Linked DNA regions of Homo sapiens. The protein of the gene in region 1 purifies or fractionates together with the protein of each later gene. This does not show direct contact. Each region holds a gene or a part of one and is shown in the gene's direction. Other genes may lie near its edges.

Region 1 (9,328 bases):
TGCAGTGGTGATCTCGGCTCACTGCAACCTCCGCCTCCCAGATTCAAGTGATTCTCCTGCCTCAGCCTCCTGAGTAGCTGGGATTACAGGTGCCTGCCACTATGCCTGGCTAATTTTTTGCATTTGTGGTAGAGACAGGATTTCATCACGTTGGCCAGGCTGGTCTCGAACGCCTGACCTCAGGTGATCCACCCACCTCGGCCTCCCAAAGTGCAGGAATTATGGGCGTGAGCCACCATGCCCAGCCAGATGTTTATTAAGTAACCTTACTTACTATGCCATGTTGTGACCATCTGTGTACATGTTTGTCCCACTGGTCTGTGAGGCCCCCAAGAGCTCCCTACTTGAATAGATTTTAAGGATCTATTTGTAGATTGTCCATCCCTCCAGATTAAAACTGAAGCTTGGCCTGGCACAGTGGCTCATGCCTGTAATCCCAGCACTTTGGGAGGCCGAGGTGGGCAGGTCACCTAAGGCCAGGAGTTCGAGACCAGCCTGGCCAACATGGTGAAACCCTGTCTTTACTAAAAAATACAAAAATTAGCCAGGCGTGGTGGCATGCATCTGTAGTCCCAGCTACTCGGGAGGCTGAGGCAGGAGAATCGCTTGAACCCGGGAGGCGGAGGTTGCAGTGAGCTGAGATTGCACCACTGCACTCCAGCCTGGGCAACAGAGCAAGACTATGTCTCAAAATAACTAACTAAATAAATTAATTAATAAAACTGAAGCTCATTGAAGATGGCAGGGATTTTTGTTCACTGCTGTATTCTCTGTACCCGGGAAATAGAAGATGCTCAATAAATGTGTCTATTGACTGTTGAAAAGGCAGGAATTTGGCCAGATCATCTTTCTGTCCCTAGCACCCACTGAACAAACCCTAAGCCCAGGGGAACTGCCAGTAAATAATGGCTGAATGAATGGGTCTATGCTAAGAATATGGGCACTGATGATGCCTAGACCCTTGGGTCTTAGACAAGGGACTCAGGTGTGGGGATTATCTATGACTGACACACACACACACACACAAGCACACACGCACGAACACCCCCTCCCCGCCAATTCCTCCCTCCCCAAGGGATTTCTCCAACTGGTGAAGACAGAAGAGGCAAGGATAAAAGTCTCACCTGGAAGTGAGTCCTCACAGCCATCTGGTGGCCACCTGGAGAACTGCAGGTATTGTCAGCCCTAGTCAAACTTTAGCCTCAGCCCCTTCTGGGAAGAAGGTGACATCTAGGCCAGAATGGAAGGCACACTGGACTTGGTGACAGATGGACCTGGCTTCAGATCCCAGCTCTGCCATTTACTATGTGATTTGGGGCAAGTCCCTTGGCTTTCCTGGGCTTCACCCAAGAAATGGAGACATGGTCCCTCACTTTTGCAGGTTGTTGTAAGCCTTGGGCTCTGGCTGGGCACCTGGTAGGTGGGAAGGGTTGGAGGAGGTGTCAAGGAGGTAGGGACAGAGGGCATGAGGAGAATAGGAGAGAAGGAACTATCTCTTCCTTTAGAGAGCAAGTATGCGGGGAATGGAGACCTGATTGGTATGAGCACTTTTGGTGCGTGAGGGAGAGCACATGAGGTTCACGTGAAAACCCATAGCCCCCCTTTAGTCTCTTGGCTCTCCTGGGTTTCTCGGGGTTAGAAATGTCACTGCATGCCGGGTGCGGTGGTTCATACCTGTAATCCCAGCACTTTGGGAGGCTGAGCAGGGTGGATCACCTGAGGTCAGGAGTTCAAGACCATCCTGACCAATATGGTAAAACCCTGTCTCTACTAAAAATACAAAAAAAAAAAAAAAAAAAAAAGCTGGGCATGGTGGCGGGCACCTGTAATCCCAGCTACTTGGGAGGCTGAGGCAGGAGAATCGCTTGAACCCAGGAGGCAGAGGTTTCAGTGAGCCGAGATTGCACCACTGCACTCCAGCCTGGGCAACAAGAATAAAACTGTCTCGGAAAAAAAAAAAAAAGGAAAGAAAAGAAATGTCACTGCACTCTCTTTTCCTCTCTGGCTGCCTTAGGATCAACTTCCCTTGCAAACAACAGGATAACTATCAGGATCAGGAAGTTCATGACCAATACTTCAGTGGAAATGATGGTCTTCCGTGTCCTTCACCCTGGGAAGACAACAATACCTAAGACAGAAAACTAGTCAAAAAGTAGAAGACCACTCTGGATTTCATCTTTGTATTTAGAACCCATTTTGGGCTGGGCACAGTGGCTCATGCCTGTAATCCCAGCACTTTGGGAGGCCAAGGTGGGCAGATCACTTGAACCTACGAGTTCAAGACCAGCCTGGGCAATGTGGCGAAACCCTGTCTCTACAAAAATTACACGCCTTAGCCAGGCGTGGTGACACGTGCTTGTAATCCCAGTTACTGTGGAGGCTGAGATGGGAGGATTGCTTGAGTCCAAGAGGTTGAGGCTACAGTGAGCATTGATTGCACCACTACACTCCAGCCTGGGTGACAGACTGAGATCCTGTCTCAAAAAACAAACAAACGAAAAAAAAAGACAGAACCCATTTTGGTGGTGTTAAGACAACTGGCTTGGTTATGATTTATGATTCCTTGGATTATGCAAAGAAAAATTAATCCAAACACAGACTTGCAAGACATAAAAGAAAAAGACCTCAAGAAAACAGCTAAAGGAACTCAAGAACAGAATGACGACAGCCAGGGAGTCACAAGAGTGTGGTGCTGGTGCTGGCAAACAGGAATGGCTTTATCTGCAGCAATGGTGAAGATTTTTCACCAGAGGATCAATAAGCTACGAAAACTTAAAAAATATATAATTGCCATTCAGAGTAGTAGAAGATAGTCCCTGATACCCCCCTTTGATGCCAACCTCCCAGCAGCCTTCACCCATCGCAGAGACCAGAACTCTGTAGGGACCCAGCTCTGATGGGGGAGTAAATGGATCCCTGACCCTGAGTCTTGGGGCCCTGATGCCCTTGGATCCTCTCTCTGACACCCCCACCTTCCTGGGCACCAGGCATATTACTATTCTCTCTGTTTTCCTTTTTTCCTCTGGTTGTTCCCTTTTAGGTCAATCATCCAGTCCATGATTATTTCTTCAATACCCATTACATATCAGGCACTGTTCTCTAGCAGAAATGGGACATAGTCAGTATCCTCTTGGAGCTTAGATTCTAGTGGGGCTGACATGTAGTAAAACAAACAAACATGAATTCATTTATAATTTCAAGAGTGCTTCATCCTCCAAAAATGAATAAATCAAGAGAAGGGGAGGGAGAGTGATGGGGAGGCCAGTGGCGATCTGAGAGTTCAGAGCAGCCTGTTTCAGAAGTAATTCGGGAGCAGAGACCTGGATGAAGAGAAGGGTTGTTGTCAGAGGGGTCAGGTGCAAGAGCCCAGGAGGAGGAGCCCCTGAAGCCACTCCTCACTCTCTGCTCCCGCCCCTGGGTGACATTATTTACCCCTAAAACATCAGTTGCCACCTGCATGCCTACACCTCCCAGGTGTCCCTCATTATCCAGCTGTAACATTGATGGCCAATGGCAAGTAGAACCCACTCAACAACCCCATGAGGCCGGTACTAATATTATCCCTGTGTTTTAGATGAGGAAATAGGCACAGAGAGCTGAAGAAACTCTCCAAAGTCACCCAGCTAGGAAATGGAGAAACTGAGATTGGACACTTCCACCCCCTAAGCCCCCTAAACTCACCACATCCAACCTGAAATGAATCCTCTTCTCCAGCTCCGACCCCCTCCTCCTCCCATGTTCCCTGCCACTTGACCTTCTGCTGCCTCACACTCAAACCCAAAACCTGCCTGGTGGAGGCTGACCATGGGGGCTGCAGTGATGGTGCTGTGATGGGGGTGTCCAGTGGGGCCTGGGATCCTCAGGCCTCTTAACCTCATCTTCCCCTCCCACAGGCCTGCATGATTCCAGGGAGCATCAAGGCAAGAGACACAGGGAGAAGGAGCAGCCAGTCCCCCTGCCGCAGGACTGGCCACATCTGTCACATCTGGAGAAGTCTGCCCAGAGTGGTTCCCCTGGACTAAGGGCAGATGGCGTTGGGGAAGAGGGAGCTCTTTCTCCTTGCTCCACCCATCAGGATGCCTAAAATAGGAGGCTGAGAGGGGCCTGCCCTGAGGACTGAGCTGCCAGGCTTTCTGCTTCCAAGTTCTTCCCGGCTCCCCATCTCCTCCTGCTTCAGGGAAGTGCACCCCTCACCCCCTCCACGCTGGCTTTCTAGATACTGGAATAAATAATTCAGGTTTTGAAATCTTGCCAGGCCCACCCCTCCGGTGCTGTGAGGGCGCTATTGGGCTGACATGAGTGACGTCACCCAGCTCTTATCCCAGCCCCGGCATCACGGGACTTGCCCTGGCAGCAACTTACCTGCCTGGTCACTGTCAGTCCAGACCCTCTACCCTGTGCCCCTCACCCTGGAGCCCACTCACCACAGCCACCTGCTATCTTCGTTCCAGGGCCCCACAGTCCTCATGGCTTAGCATTGTCGCTTCAGTACCCCAGCCATTCTGACAGGGTAATGGTGACCTGAAGTCACCTGGACACTCCATGTTCCCAGGCCGCTGCCTCTGCCATCCCGGGGTCCCTGAACTCCCCCCTGCTGCATAGTCACCCTGACACTGCCATGGTTGCCCTGAGGGCTTCCCCTCTACCGTTAGCGTCCCACGGCCATCACCCCCCACCCCAAGATTCTGTCACCATGCTAATGTCGTCACTGCCACCCACCTCCCCGCTCCCTCGTGCTCCCTGTCATCGTCACCTCAGGGCCCCATCATCTTGGAAACCCTGTCATTCTCACCAGGGAAGCCCAACCAGCCCCATCACAAGCTCTTCCTTCGTCACCTGGATCTCGTCAGCCTCTCTGCCACCCAAGGGTCCCATCACCCCACAGCCTAGCCGGGCCCCCTTTCCACTCTTCCACCACGTTCCCTGCAGCCTCTCTGAGACTTCAAGGCTCTCGCACCGGCGCCTCTGAAACCCCCGGCCCGCAGAGGGCGCCGCGTCAAGGACAGCGCGGGCGGACTCGGGAGGGGGCGGGGCCGCAGCCACGGTCGCTTTTTATGAATGGGGGAGCGGGCGGTGCGAGGCCTTATTACTATGCCGCGCAACGCGCGCTGCGCCCCAGCGCGCCGCGCCCATTGGCTGATCGGACCGCTGACGTCACCGAACCGGTGGCCGGGGGCGGGGCGGGGTGACTCACGCCGCTTCTCCCGCGGCCGCGGGGGCTTCTCGGGGTCCACGCACGCCCTGCGCCGCCAGGACCCGAGCGGAGCCTCCCCGCGGCCCGGCCGCGCCTGGTCCTGAGCGGTGAGTAGCGGGCCCCGCCGCGGGCACCAGGGGTCCTGAAGGGCACGCAGGATGCTGGGGCACTGGGCCGGCGGAAGGCTCCTAGTGGCCGGCCGGGGTTCGAGTTCGAGGTGGGAATTCTGGGTTTAGGCGATTCTGGGTTAGCAGGCTTGGGCCCAAGTGCTCGAGTGCTGGGGTTGAGTTGGATGACCCGGCGAAGGGTAAGCATTCCTGCAGGGACCCGAGGCCCTGGAGGGACTGATGGTCATCTGAGGTTAAGCCGGCAGGAGGCGTCTGGGGCAGGGACCCAGGGGTCCGAACAGCAGGAGGTGTCCAATTTAGGAATCCAGGTATCCAGGCAGGAGGCAGAGTCAGGCCCAAAATCCAGGTGTCCGGGCAGAAGGAGGCATCTGACTCAGGGATCCAGTCTTCCAGCAGGGGGGTCTGCCCAGAGACCTAGAGATTCAGGCGGAAAGAAGGGTCCAGCCAGGAACAGAAGTCTGGGAGGGTGGGGGGTGGGGGGCTGAGTTCCCAGGTGTTACCGCGGGAGTGCGGGGTGATGGCTGGCGGGAGCTTCACGCGCATTCCCTGGGGGCGGAGTCTAAGGCTGGCAGTACTGAAAATCGTGAGGGGTCTGGGAGCCTCAGGCACGAGCTAGCATCATCATCTCTGATGGGAGGGAGCGGAGCTGCTCAGTCTCCCTGATGGGGTAGATGTTTCCCTACCCCAATCTTGAGCCTTCGGGGGCATCCCCTGGATCCTATGGCCCTCTTCCACTTATAGTACCCCTTCTTCTGTCTCTCCTCTGGTCACACACGTGGGAAAAAGAGACCTGCAGGACCTAGGACAGGGATCCCCAGGAAGAGACCCCTGTTTAGAGGCCTGGGGGCATTGGAGGGGACAGCGGTATCCTGGGAAGAGCCCCAGGGCATGAATGTGGGGATAAGGCATTGGGACCCTATCAGGTATCCTGAGGAGAGACTCCCACCACGTATCCTGAGAAGCACCTCACCCCCTCCAGACCCCAACTCCCATCACCCAGCTTGGTCAGCTTCTCACAAGGCCTTTCTCCTGCAGGTACCATGATGTGGGGTGCAGGCAGCCCTCTGGCCTGGCTCTCAGCTGGCTCAGGCAACGTGAATGTAAGCAGCGTGGGCCCAGCAGAGGGGCCCACAGGTCCAGCCGCACCACTGCCCTCGCCTAAGGCCTGGGATGTGGTGCTCTGCATCTCAGGCACCCTGGTGTCCTGCGAGAATGCGCTAGTGGTGGCCATCATCGTGGGCACTCCTGCCTTCCGTGCCCCCATGTTCCTGCTGGTGGGCAGCCTGGCCGTGGCAGACCTGCTGGCAGGCCTGGGCCTGGTCCTGCACTTTGCTGCTGTCTTCTGCATCGGCTCAGCGGAGATGAGCCTGGTGCTGGTTGGCGTGCTGGCAATGGCCTTTACCGCCAGCATCGGCAGTCTACTGGCCATCACTGTCGACCGCTACCTTTCTCTGTACAATGCCCTCACCTACTATTCAGAGACAACAGTGACACGGACCTATGTGATGCTGGCCTTAGTGTGGGGAGGTGCCCTGGGCCTGGGGCTGCTGCCTGTGCTGGCCTGGAACTGCCTGGATGGCCTGACCACATGTGGCGTGGTTTATCCACTCTCCAAGAACCATCTGGTAGTTCTGGCCATTGCCTTCTTCATGGTGTTTGGCATCATGCTGCAGCTCTACGCCCAAATCTGCCGCATCGTCTGCCGCCATGCCCAGCAGATTGCCCTTCAGCGGCACCTGCTGCCTGCCTCCCACTATGTGGCCACCCGCAAGGGCATTGCCACACTGGCCGTGGTGCTTGGAGCCTTTGCCGCCTGCTGGTTGCCCTTCACTGTCTACTGCCTGCTGGGTGATGCCCACTCTCCACCTCTCTACACCTATCTTACCTTGCTCCCTGCCACCTACAACTCCATGATCAACCCTATCATCTACGCCTTCCGCAACCAGGATGTGCAGAAAGTGCTGTGGGCTGTCTGCTGCTGCTGTTCCTCTTCCAAGATCCCCTTCCGATCCCGCTCCCCCAGTGATGTCTAGCTGAGTCTTCATGACCCTTCAACCCTGATTACTACAGAATTCCAGAATGTTAGGCTCTCCAGGGCTTCTTTCCAAACCCCCAGCTCCACACCCCCCAGACCCAGCTGGTTCTGGAGTTCTAGGACATTGGGTGTTTCAAGGTTCTGTTCAGATCCCTATGGGGGCCCAGCTGGCTCCACGGTTCCAGAATGTTCAGGTGGTCAGTGTTCTACTCAGAAATGTCTCACAGCCCAGCTGGGTTGCAATTCCAGAATGCTGGGAGTTTTACAGTGCCATTCCAAGTCCCAGATGTCCCTCTTCCCCCAAACTTGACCTTGACCATGTCACTTTATGTTTGAATTTCTGAGCTAAAGAGTCAGAGAGATTAGTCACATAGTTGCCTAAATAGGAGAGAGAAAGATTATATATGCACATATACAAAGACAGTGTCTATTTATGATTGATTTATTTATTTATAAATTTACTTATGGGTGGTAAGGGGCAAAAAAGAGGCCCACACCTTGATATCCAGGCCATACCAGGGTATCCCTTGTCCCTTCACCCCCATTTCTGACCTCAGTTCCTGGAGGGGGGAAAGGGTGAAAGAGAAACCACGTATTTTGTTATTATTTTGGATTATTTTTTATCGAAGAGATCATAGAAACCAGAGCCTTCTCCCCAGGCCTGCCCTCCTCGGGTTTGGAAGGGGAACACACCAGCCTCTGGTTTTTTATTTTTTTAAGAAGCCATCACCTGAGCAACCAAAAATTCCTCTGCGCTGGGGTCCGACTGCCCTCTGGTGGCCATTTGGGGAAAACTGCAGCCCGGCCAGGCAGCTGGGACCAGAATGCAACCCCAGCTCCACTCCAGCCTGGCGTCCAGGGCCACAGCCATGGCCTGGGGGCCAAGCCTCACCCTGCGGTGCCCTAAAGGAGGGGGGGCACGAGCCAACACCCCACCCCTCTGCCAACCGGGGTATGGCCCCCAGTGCATTCCCTGTTCCCGTCTCCAACCCAACTCAATAAAAAATGATTTTGTCATAAATATGTTTCCCTATGTGTGTGTGGAGGGTATGGAGTGGGGCCTGATGGGGGATGGCCTGGAATGAGAGGGTCAAGCCAGGCCTGGGGGGCCTGTTGGGGGATCTGGGGAGCTGGACAGAGGGTGGAGGGTGGCTGGCAGGTGACTCCTTCTCAGATGTCAGTGCCCCTCTGCTCAGACCTGGGCACTGACTGGCAAGGACCTTACCTCCTCCTGGTGACAGGAACCTGGGTGCTTGGCTCTTCCTGGGTCAAGGATGCTCACATCCTGCCCACACCGGCCACTGTGGGGCTTAGACATGATGAATATGCTCAAAGCATGTCAGTTTCCTTAATAATAATAGGTCCTACTTTTTTTTTTTTTTTTTTTTTTTTTGAGACAGAGTCTCGCTCTGTCCCCCAGGCTGGAGTGCAGTGGCGTGATCTCGGCTCACTGCAAGCTCCACCTCCCGGGTTCACGCCATTCTCCTGCCTCAGCCTCCCGAGTAGCTGGGACTACAGGCGCCCACCATCACGCCCGGCTAATTTTTTTTGTATTTTTAGTAGAGACGGGGTTTCACTGTGTAAGCCAGGATGGTCTCGATCTCCTGACCTCGTGATCCACCCGTCTCAGCCTCCCAAAGTGCTGGGATTACAGGCGTGAGCCAACGCGTCTGGCCAATAATAGGTCCTTCTAATCATGGGTGCCTACTGTGTGTCTGGCACACATGCTACCTCGCTTATGCCTAATAAGCATCCCATGGCACCGGTAGTGTCTTCTCCATTTTACAAACGAGGGAGCTGAGGCTGAGTGAGGGACAGCAGCTGGCCCAAGGCCATACAGCTAAAAAATGGTAGAGCCAGGAACATCTGTTTCCAGAATCTGTGCTGTGTAGTGAGTGATTTCCTTCCTTCCCAAGCCTGGAGCTTAGGACATTCTGGACCCTGATTTTTTTTTTTTTTTTTTTTTGAGAC
Region 2 (9,566 bases), on another chromosome or scaffold:
TTTGTATTTTTTGTAGAGATGTGGTTTCACCAGGGTGGTCTCGAGCCCCTGACCTCAGTTGATCCTCCTACCTCGGCCTCCTAAAGTGCTGGGATTACAGGCCTGAACCACCGCACCTGGCAGGGAGTTTTGTCTAGTTTGTTTACTGCTGTGTCCCCAGCACCTAGACAATTTTATTTATGTCCCACATGATATGTTGGACATAAATAAAGTGTCACAATATAAATAAATTGATATCCAACATAAAATTATGTCTCACATAAATAAAATATGAGCCACATATATAATTTAATTTTTTTTGTTATTTTTAGTTACTTATTTCTTTTTTTTTTTTTTGAGACAGAGTCTCACTCTGTCACCCAGGCTGGAGTGCAGTGGCGCGATCTTGGCTCACTGCAAGCTCCGCCTCCCAGGGTTCACGCCATTCTCCTGCCTCAGCCTCCCCAGCAGCTGGGACTACAGGCGCCTGCCACCACGCCCCACTGATTTTGTTTTTGTATTTTTAGTAGAGACGGGGTTTCACCGTGTTAGCTAGGCTGGTCTCGATCTCCTGACCTTGTGATCCGCCCGCCTCGGCCTCCCAAAGTGCTGGGATTGCAGGCGTGAGCCACTGCGTCCAGCCTAGTTACTTATTTCTTGATTTATTTTGAGATACGTTCTCACTCTGTCACTCAGGCTGGAGTGCAGTGGCATGATCACAACTTACTGCAGCCTCAAACTCCTGGGCTCCGGCAATCCTCCCCCCTCAGCCTCCCCAGTAGCTGGAACCACAGGTACGTGCTACTGCAACTGGCTAATTTTTAAACTTTGGGAGGTGGAGGCGGCAGATCACTTGATGTCAGGAGTTCAAGACCAGCCTGGCCAACATGATGAAACCCCCTCTCTACTAAAAATACAAAAATTAGGCCAGGCATGGTGGCTCATGCCTGTGATCCCAGCACTTTGGGAGGCTGAGGCAGGCAGATCACTTGAGGTCAGGAGTTTGAGACCAGCCTGGCTAACATGGTGAAACCCCGTCTCTACTAAAAATATAAAAATTAGCTGGGCGAGGTGGTGTGTGCCTGTAGTCCCAGCTACTTGGGAAGCTGAGGTGGGAGAATCACTTGAACCCAGGAGGCAGATTTTGCAGTGAACCCAGGAGGTGGAGTTTGCATCCAGCCTGGGTAATACAGAGGAACCCAGTGAGCACATTTCACCCTGCCATCCACAACTTTGCAGTCATGCTATGCACATGCTGGGTCCTACCCTTAAAGAAAGTCAAGGCTGGCCAGGTGCGGTGGCTCACGTCTGTAATCCCAGCACTTTGGGAGGCCGAGGCGGGCAGATCATGAGGTCAGGAGTTCCAGACCACACTGGCCAACATGGTGAAACCCCATCTCTACCAAAAATACAAAAATTAGCTGGGCGTAGTGACGCGTGCCTGTAGTCCCAGCTACATGGGAGGCTGAGGCAGGAGAATCGCTTGAACCTGGGAGGCAGAGGTTGCAGTAAGTCGAGATCACACCACTGCACTAGGCAACAGAGTAAGACTCCATCTCAAAAAAAAAAAAAAAAAAGTCAAGTCTGGGGCCTTTGAGGGAGAATTTCACAGTGTCTCACTGCTTCTCCAGAAAGTTTGAGAACATCTACATCGGCTGGGGTCACAAGTACAGCCCCGAGAGCTTCAACCCGGCCCTGCCAGCCCCCATTCAACAAGAGTACCCCAGTGGCCCAGAGATCATGGAGATGAGTGACCCCACAGTGGAAGAGGAGCAGGCTCTGAAAGCAGCCCAGGAACAAGCCCTGGGAGCCACAGAGGAGGAGGAGGAGGGCGAGGAGGAGGAGGAGGGCGAGGAGACAGATGACTGAGGCCCACCCTCTAGCCACTTTCCCCAAGCAGGTAGATAGCAAATTTCCCCTTAGAGGTAGTTAGCATGGATTATATTTTCACTATGTGCTTCCTGTCCCCAGAGGGCAGGGATAGAAAAGGAAGGCAACTGCTTCAAATAAAATTCCTCCACGGCATTATGGATGAGCCATTCATTCATTTGTTCACCACCTCTGTTGACATGGACTCCAAGCCAGGGCTGTTGGGCCCTGCAGAGAGCACAGACATTGCCTGGCAGAGTCTCTCCCACCTGTTTGGTTTTTGTTGTTGTTGTTTGAGACAGGGTCTCATTCTGTCACCCAGGTTAGAGTACAGTGGCACAATCTCAGCTCCCTGCAGCCTTGACCTCCTGGGCTCAAGCAGTCCTCCCATCTCAGCCTCCGGAGTAGCTGAGACCGCAGGTGCACATCACCACATACACTAATTTTTGTATTTTTTGTAGAGACAGGGTCCTGAGTAACTAGGACTGCAGGCACAGCCCACCATGCCCAGCTAAATTTTTTCAATTTTTCAGAGTCTCACTATGAGATGGGGTTTATGTTGCCCAAGCTGGTCTTGAACTCCTGGCATCAAGCGATCTGCCTGTCTTGGCCTCCCAAAGTGTTAGGATACAGCTGTGAGCCACCGCGACCAGCCCCACCTGTTTTATTTATTCATTTACCTAGCCATCAAACCATTATTGAAATACCTCCTGTCAGCCCACCCCTGTGCTGGGGACACAGACAGCTGCAGTCCTGCCTTCCTGGACCTCACAACACTATAGGGAGAGAGACTCATTTCCAGACAGTGACAGCCCAAATGGGGAAGCCCAGAGGACTGACAGAGCTCCCGAGCCAACTCTTAAAGGGTCAAGAAAAGAATGGGGAAAGGCATTCCAAGAATAGGGAACAGAATGTGCAAAGACCCAAGGACAAGAGAGAGTGTGATATGTTGGGGTAGTTTTTCAAGCCTCATTTTAGGTGGTGGATAGTGTGAGGAGTTAGTGGTGAGATATGAGATTGAAAAGAGGTTGGCAGGGGCCAGATCACTTGGGGCTTAACTTTCCCCTGAGAGCACTAGGGAGCTACAGATGGGTTTTGAGCAGGGGAGGGCCCTGATCATATTCATGCTTTAGAAAGACCTCTCTAGGCCTAGTGCAGTGGGTCACACATGTAATCCCAGCACTTAGGGAGGCCAAGGTTGGCGGATCACCTGAGGTCAGGAGTTTGAGACCAGCATGCCCAACATGGTGAAACCCCGTCTCTACTAAAACTACAAAAAAGTAGCTGGGTGTGGTGGCAGGTGCCTGTAATCCCAGCCACTCAGGAGGCTAAGGCAGGAGAATCACTTGAACCCAGGAGGCAGAGGTTGCAGTGAGCCAAAATCGTCCCATTGCACTCCAGCCCACGTGACAAGAGCGAGACTCTGTCTCAAAAAAAAAAAAAAAAAAAAAAAAAGCCGGGTGCAGTGGCTCATGCCTGTACTCCCAGCACTTTGGGAGGCCGAGGTGGGTGGATCACCTGAGGTCAGGAGTTCGAGACCAGACTGGCCAACATGGTGAAACCCCGTCTCTGAGCCGAGATGGAGCCATTGCACTCCAGCCTGGGTGACAGGGTGAGACTGTCTCAAAAAAAACAAAAACAAAAACAAAATAAAACCTCTCTACATGCCAAGTGAAAGGTGGAAGTGGGGGTGAGACAGAAATCTGGGAGACCAAGAGACACGGTTGATGTGGGGGTGGGGGAAGGGCTTGGGTAGAGGAGAAGCTTGGATCAGGGAGAACAAGGAACTGAGAAAGAGGAATTCCACGTGGTCGAATGCAAAAGACTTGGAGGCTGTAAGCGGGGGCAGAGTGAAGATAAATGGTACACATCTAGGAAGACACCCAGGTCTGTGGCCTGGTTGACTGAGTGGACGGCAGAGCTAGCCCTAAGGTGGGGATGCAAGAGAGGTGGAGGATTTGGTGTAAGACGTCAATTTCATTGTAGGATTCTTTTTTCTTTCTTTTTTTTTTTTTTTTAGAGAGACTGAGTCTGACTCTGTCCCCCAGGCTTTAGTGCAGTGATGTGAATTCATAGCAGTCTTGATCTCCTGGGCTCAAACGATCCTCCCACCTCAGCCTCCCAAAGTGCTGGGATTCTCGGATTCCAGGCATGAGCCACCATGCCCGAACCATTGTAGGATTTTTTTTTTTAAGTGTGAGATGCCCTTGGGACACTCTAGGGAGAAATCGTAGAGGCCATTGACTACATGAGACTAGAAAGATCTATGATGGGGCTGGGTGGCTTCAGCAGACATGGGGAGCACTGGCTATGAGTAGGAGCTGTTGGGATCAGGGGGAGACTTTGGGTTACGAGTGGATCACTGGGACACTGGGGCACCGTGGGGATCAATACAATTTGGGAATCAGAGGTAGGTTTTGGAGGACAAGTGAGGTTGTTGAAAATAAGAAAATCATGGAAATATACATTGGAGGTTGGTGGAAAATATGAAGGATGTTTGGAGTTAGCATTAATCAATAGTGGGTCAGAGGAAGTCCTCTGAGTTGTGTGGGGACACAGGGATTTGGTGGGTCACCAAGGGTGGGGAAGAATGGTAGCAGATGCTGTGGTCATTCAGGGATTTGAATATGTCAGTGGGAAACACTGGAGGTCAGGGGAGTGTATATTGGGCGTCTAAGGAGAGACCAGGGTCACTTGGGGTTGGCTGTGACTTCATGGGAAGGCTGGACTATGGATGAGGGCTTCTTTGTCGTGGGGGAAAAAAAAAAAAAAATCCCTCCGTTGCTAGGCAAACGTTCCCAGGGCGCGGTTGCTAAGGACTTGAGCTTTCTAACTGGCCACGCCTCTTTCCATTGCGGGCTCCGCCCCCGCAGCCAACCACAAGTCGGTCACAGGCTCAAAGGCCGCGCCCACCTTCTCGCCCCGCCCACAGTCCCAGCACCGTTACCCGAGCGACCGCGGGGATTCGTCCCGCCTCCGGATCTGGGTGCCAATCGAAGAGGCGTTGCCCGGGCGACGACCCCACCTTTTCCGGCGCGGGCCAGCGGCTTCCGGGAGGGGGCCCGGCTGCGGGCGGCAGTCCGGCAGTGGCGGGGCCCGGGGGGCGCCCAAGATGGCGGCGGGCGGCGCGGAGGGCGGCTCGGGCCCCGGCGCCGCCATGGGGGACTGCGCGGAGATTAAGTCGCAATTCCGCACGCGCGAGGGTTTCTACAAGCTACTCCCGGGCGACGGCGCCGCTCGCAGGTCGGGTCCGGCTTCCGCCCAGACTCCGGTGCCGCCTCAGCCACCGCAGCCCCCGCCCGGCCCTGCCTCCGCCTCCGGTCCCGGCGCTGCAGGCCCCGCGTCGTCCCCGCCGCCCGCAGGCCCCGGACCCGGGCCCGCCCTGCCCGCCGTGCGCCTCAGCCTCGTGCGCCTCGGGGAGCCGGACAGCGCCGGGGCCGGGGAGCCGCCCGCCACGCCCGCGGGGCTGGGCTCGGGGGGAGACCGCGTCTGCTTCAACTTGGGCCGTGAGCTCTATTTCTACCCAGGCTGCTGTCGTCGTGGGAGCCAACGGGTGAGCGGCCTGCATCGTGGGGCCCTGGGTGCTGAAAGGATGGAGGTTCCAGAGAACTGATAGGAGGGTCCCCGAATTGATATGGGGCCCTGAGATAGGCATTCTAAATGTGATGGACGTTGTAGGGCGACAGCATTGGAGGGAGTACAGGATTCTGAAATGTGATGAGAGGCCCGCGGGGTGCTGGGCAGGCATCTTGGAGGTGATGGGGGAAATCCCCTTTACCCCCGTTATGCGTAGGAGTTCTGGGATGGTGACTATTGGACATGATGGGGTATCTGAGATGAGGTGGGATCCCCCGGGTTCTGGGGTGGCAGGCATTCTGCAGGTAATGGGGAATCATGAGGTGATGCAAGCCCAGAGGTGATGGAGAACCCAGTATTGCAGCCTGGAGGTGTGGGAGAGGGGTCTTGAGATTGAGCCCAGGAATGAGGAGAAGTCTAGAAGTGATGGGGGCCTTGAAGGTGATAGGGGATCCAGAAGCTGAATGGGATTCTAGAGAAAATTGGGGTCTGGAAGTCATGAGGGTCCTGGAGGAGATGAGCGTCCGGAAGCTGATGGGAGCTCTCAAGGGAATGAGAGGCCCTGGCAGGGGAATCTGCAGGTGTGATTCAGGACATCTCTAAAGCGATGTGGTGAGAACCCTGGCCGTTTATGGTGATCCCAGAAATGATGGGGATCCTTCGGAGCCCCTAGGTAATAAATGGGCCTAAAATGTGGGAGACCGTGAGGTTTGACGGGTCCCAGAACTGTGGCGGTTTAGGGACTACAAAGTGAAGAGAATGCTAGGATGTTAGGCTTTAGAGTCCTGGAAATTTGGGTGACCTCAAGGTTTGGGGGTCTTGGAATAGTGTGGTACTAGGTCCCAAGGGAGTTGCTGAGGTTATAGGATGGAGTGGTGAGGCTAAAAGGAATCGGAGCTTAGGAACTGTGTGGACCCAGAACCCTGATTATGTGGACAAGGGTGTCTCTGAATTAGAGGTGACCCAACTTTGGGGAGGCACTGTGGTCAAGGGGGATCCTTACCATCTTTTTTGCTACTCTTGTCTGTGATTTGGGTCCCCTTCCCGTCTGTGGTTGCCCCGTCCTTCGCAATCCACCTACTCACCTCCCCACTTCCCTCTGGGTTCTAACCCTGCTTCCTCTTAGTGGTTTCCCCCAACCTCAACATCCTCTTCCTTCTCCTCAGTGGCATACACCATTAACTCCTTTTCTCCCACCCCTCAAGTCCATTGACCTCAACAAGCCAATTGACAAGCGGATCTACAAGGGCACCCAGCCCACCTGCCACGATTTCAACCAGTTCACTGCTGCCACCGAGACCATCTCGCTGCTGGTGGGCTTCTCAGCGGGTCAAGTGCAGTACCTGGATCTCATCAAAAAGGACACCAGCAAGCTGTTCAATGAGGAGGTGATTGCAGCCCCCAGAGCCCCCAACTTCTCTGCCTTCTCACCTACCCACTATATGCCATTAGGATGCAGCTGCCTGCGGAACAGTGTAGGCCTGAGAGGGGCAGGACCAGGGAGAGATGGAGAATGGGGTGACAGCAGCTAATGACAGCTGCCTTTACTGTACCCAGGCCCTGTGCTGTGTTACCCTTGTGCTGAATACTTTACTCCTTGGGTTTTCTTTCTTTCTTTCTTTCTTTTATTTATTTATTTTGAGATGGAGTCTCACCCTGTCACCCAGGCTGGAGTGCAGTGGCGCGATCTCTGCTCACTGCAAGATCCACCTCCCGGGTTCATGCCATTCTCCTGCCTCAGCCTCCTGAGTAGCTGGGACTTCAGGCACCTGCTGCCACGCCCGCCTAATTTATTGTAGTTTTAGTGGAGATGGGGTTTCACCGTGTTAGTCAGGATGGTCTCGATCTCCTGACCTCGTGATCTGCCCACCTCGGCCTCCCAAAGTGGTGGGATTACAGGTGTGAGCCACCATGCCCGGTTCTTTTTTTTTTTTTTAATTGTAATTGTAATTTTTATTGTTTTTAATTTTTTTTTTCTTTTTAAGGCGGAGTCTCACTCTGTCGCCCAGGCTGGAGTGCAGTGGTACAATCTCGGGTCACTGCAACCTCCGCCTCCCAGGTTCAAGCAATTCTCCTGCCTCAGCCTCCTGAGTAGCTGGGACTACAGGTGCGCACTATCATACCTGGCTAATTTTTTTTTTTGAGATGGAGTCTCGCTCTGTCGCCCAGGCTGGAGTGCAGTGGCGCGATCTCGGCTCACTGCAACCTCTGCCTCCCGGGTTCACGCCATTCTTCTGTCTCAGCCTCCCCAGCAGCTGGGACTACAGGCGCCCAGCACCACGCCCAGCTAATTTTTTTGTATTTTTAGTAGAGACGGGATTTCACCGTGTTAGTCAGGATAGTCTCGATCTCCTGACCTCGTGATCTGCCCGCCTCGGCCTCCCAAAGTGCTGGAATTAAAGGCGTGAGCCACCACACCCGGCCAATTTTTGTATTTTTGGTAGAGATGGGGTTTCACCATGTTGGCCAGGCTGGTCTCAAACACCTGACCTTGTGATCCGCCCACCTCGGCCTCCCGAAGTGCTGGGATTACAGGCATGAGCCACCGCGCCCGGCCATTCTTTGAGTTTTCATCAACCAGTGGATACAGAAGTGTGCTGCCCATTTTGCAGATTAGAGAATTGAGGCTAGTAAATAAGTCGGGACTTAGTTGATGCCCTTGCTCTTTGAGTTCTGGGCTCTGGAGGCTTTGGATTCAAAGCCCTGCTGCACCATTTACTCATCATGTGACTTTGGGAAGGTGACCATTCTCTGAGCCTCACTTCTCCTCCTCTGCAAAATGGGATTCCAGTTCCTACCTTGCAGGACCGCTGTTGTAGAATCATACATGGAGATTGCTCAGTCCTGGGCCAACTTGGCCTACGAGGAGATACCAGTAAACGACCTTATCCGCGGGCAGGGACTGCTCTTGGCTTCTGTCTCATTCTCTCTGGTCCAGAGGAGGTGTTCCATAAATATTCTCAGAATGAGTGAATGGCTGAAGGGAGTGAACGGAACAGTCAGTGGATTAAAAATTCATTAGCTCATCCATTCACAAATAGTTTTTGAGCATCCGTTCTGTGCCAGGCACCGTTCCCAGCACTAGGGATATCACATCTCAGGGCCCTGGACAGGAGGCCCTGCCCTTTTGGAGCTTTCAGTCTAGCTGGGGAGACAGACAGTTAATCAAGTTAAGTCTTCGTGTGTCAGCAGGTGATTAAGGCCTGTTTAGAAGAAGCAGTGGGGAAGGGGCTGAGGGAAGCTTGGAGAGTTTAGTAGGGTGGTCAGGAAAGCCCTCACTAAGAGGTGATACTGAAATAAAGACCTGAAGGAGGCAGGTGAGAAGAGTTGCCTGGGGAAGGGCATTTTTTTTTTTTTTTTTCCTGAGATAGGGTCTCACTCTGTCGTCCATGCTGGAGTGCAGTGGTACGATCTTCGTTCACTGCAACCTCCGCCTCCCAGGCTCAAGCAGTCCTCCCATATCAGCCTCCTGAGTAGCTGGGACTACATGCATGCACCACCACAACTGGCTAACTTTTGTATTTTTTGTAGAGGCGGGGTCTCTTTGTGTTGCCCAAGCTGGTCTCGAACTCCTGGGCTCAAGCTATTCTCCTGCTTTGGCCTCCCAAAGCGCTGGGATTATAGGCGTGAGCCATCACACCCAGCCAAGAAGGACATTCTGAGTATCGGGGCCAGCTAGGACAAATGCAGGATTGCACAGAAGCCGTGTGGCCAGTGCAGTTACTGAGGGAGAGAAGATGGTAGATGAGTTCCAAGAAATAACGGAGGGGCTGGCTCATGGAGAGTCTGGAAGGTCACGGAGAGATTTTGCCTTACTCTTAGTTGGAAGCCTGTGGAGGAGCCTTTCTCATTGGGGCTCACCTGAGCCCTGGAAGGCAGAAGTGACTAGAGTGATTATTTGTTCAGTTCTCCCAGGGATGGGAGGCACCTCATCCTGGGAGAGCAGCTCCTTAGTTGCATACACTGGCTGCCTGAGAGCATTAGGGCCTCAGGCTCTGGAACCCTGCTTGAGAGAGGCTGCGAAGTGTTCAGAGCAGGACAGTGCCAGGTGCTGGCTGATACTTCACAGAGCATCGCTGTGGCGGCTGCAGAGGACAGACAGGCCCAGGCATTGGAGCCTGAGGCCAGTCACACAGCATTGC

What was found.
Region 2: the proteins of GPR3 (region 1) and DMWD purify together in Homo sapiens (affinity purification with mass spectrometry; 3 studies listed by BioGRID and IntAct, with this or other methods). This does not show direct contact.

Annotation. Positions count from the first base shown.
Region 1 is NC_000001.11:27,387,437-27,396,764, forward strand, and holds GPR3 (G-protein coupled receptor 3), read left to right. Parts: upstream 1-5,185; 5' UTR 5,186-5,301; intron 5,302-6,357; 5' UTR 6,358-6,362; coding exon 6,363-7,355; 3' UTR 7,356-8,378; downstream 8,379-9,328. UniProt on the Homo sapiens protein: Constitutively active G-protein coupled receptor that maintains high 3'-5'-cyclic adenosine monophosphate (cAMP) levels that a plays a role in serveral processes including meiotic arrest in oocytes or neuronal development via activation of numerous intracellular signaling pathways.
Region 2 is NC_000019.10:45,788,151-45,797,716, reverse strand, and holds the start of DMWD (dystrophia myotonica WD repeat-containing protein), read left to right. Parts: upstream 1-4,871; 5' UTR 4,872-4,960; coding exon 4,961-5,401; intron 5,402-6,629; coding exon 6,630-6,812; intron 6,813-9,566. Other genes in the region: RSPH6A (radial spoke head protein 6 homolog A), read left to right, coding at 1,611-1,848. UniProt on the Homo sapiens protein: Regulator of the deubiquitinating USP12/DMWD/WDR48 complex. Functions as a cofactor that promotes USP12 enzymatic activity.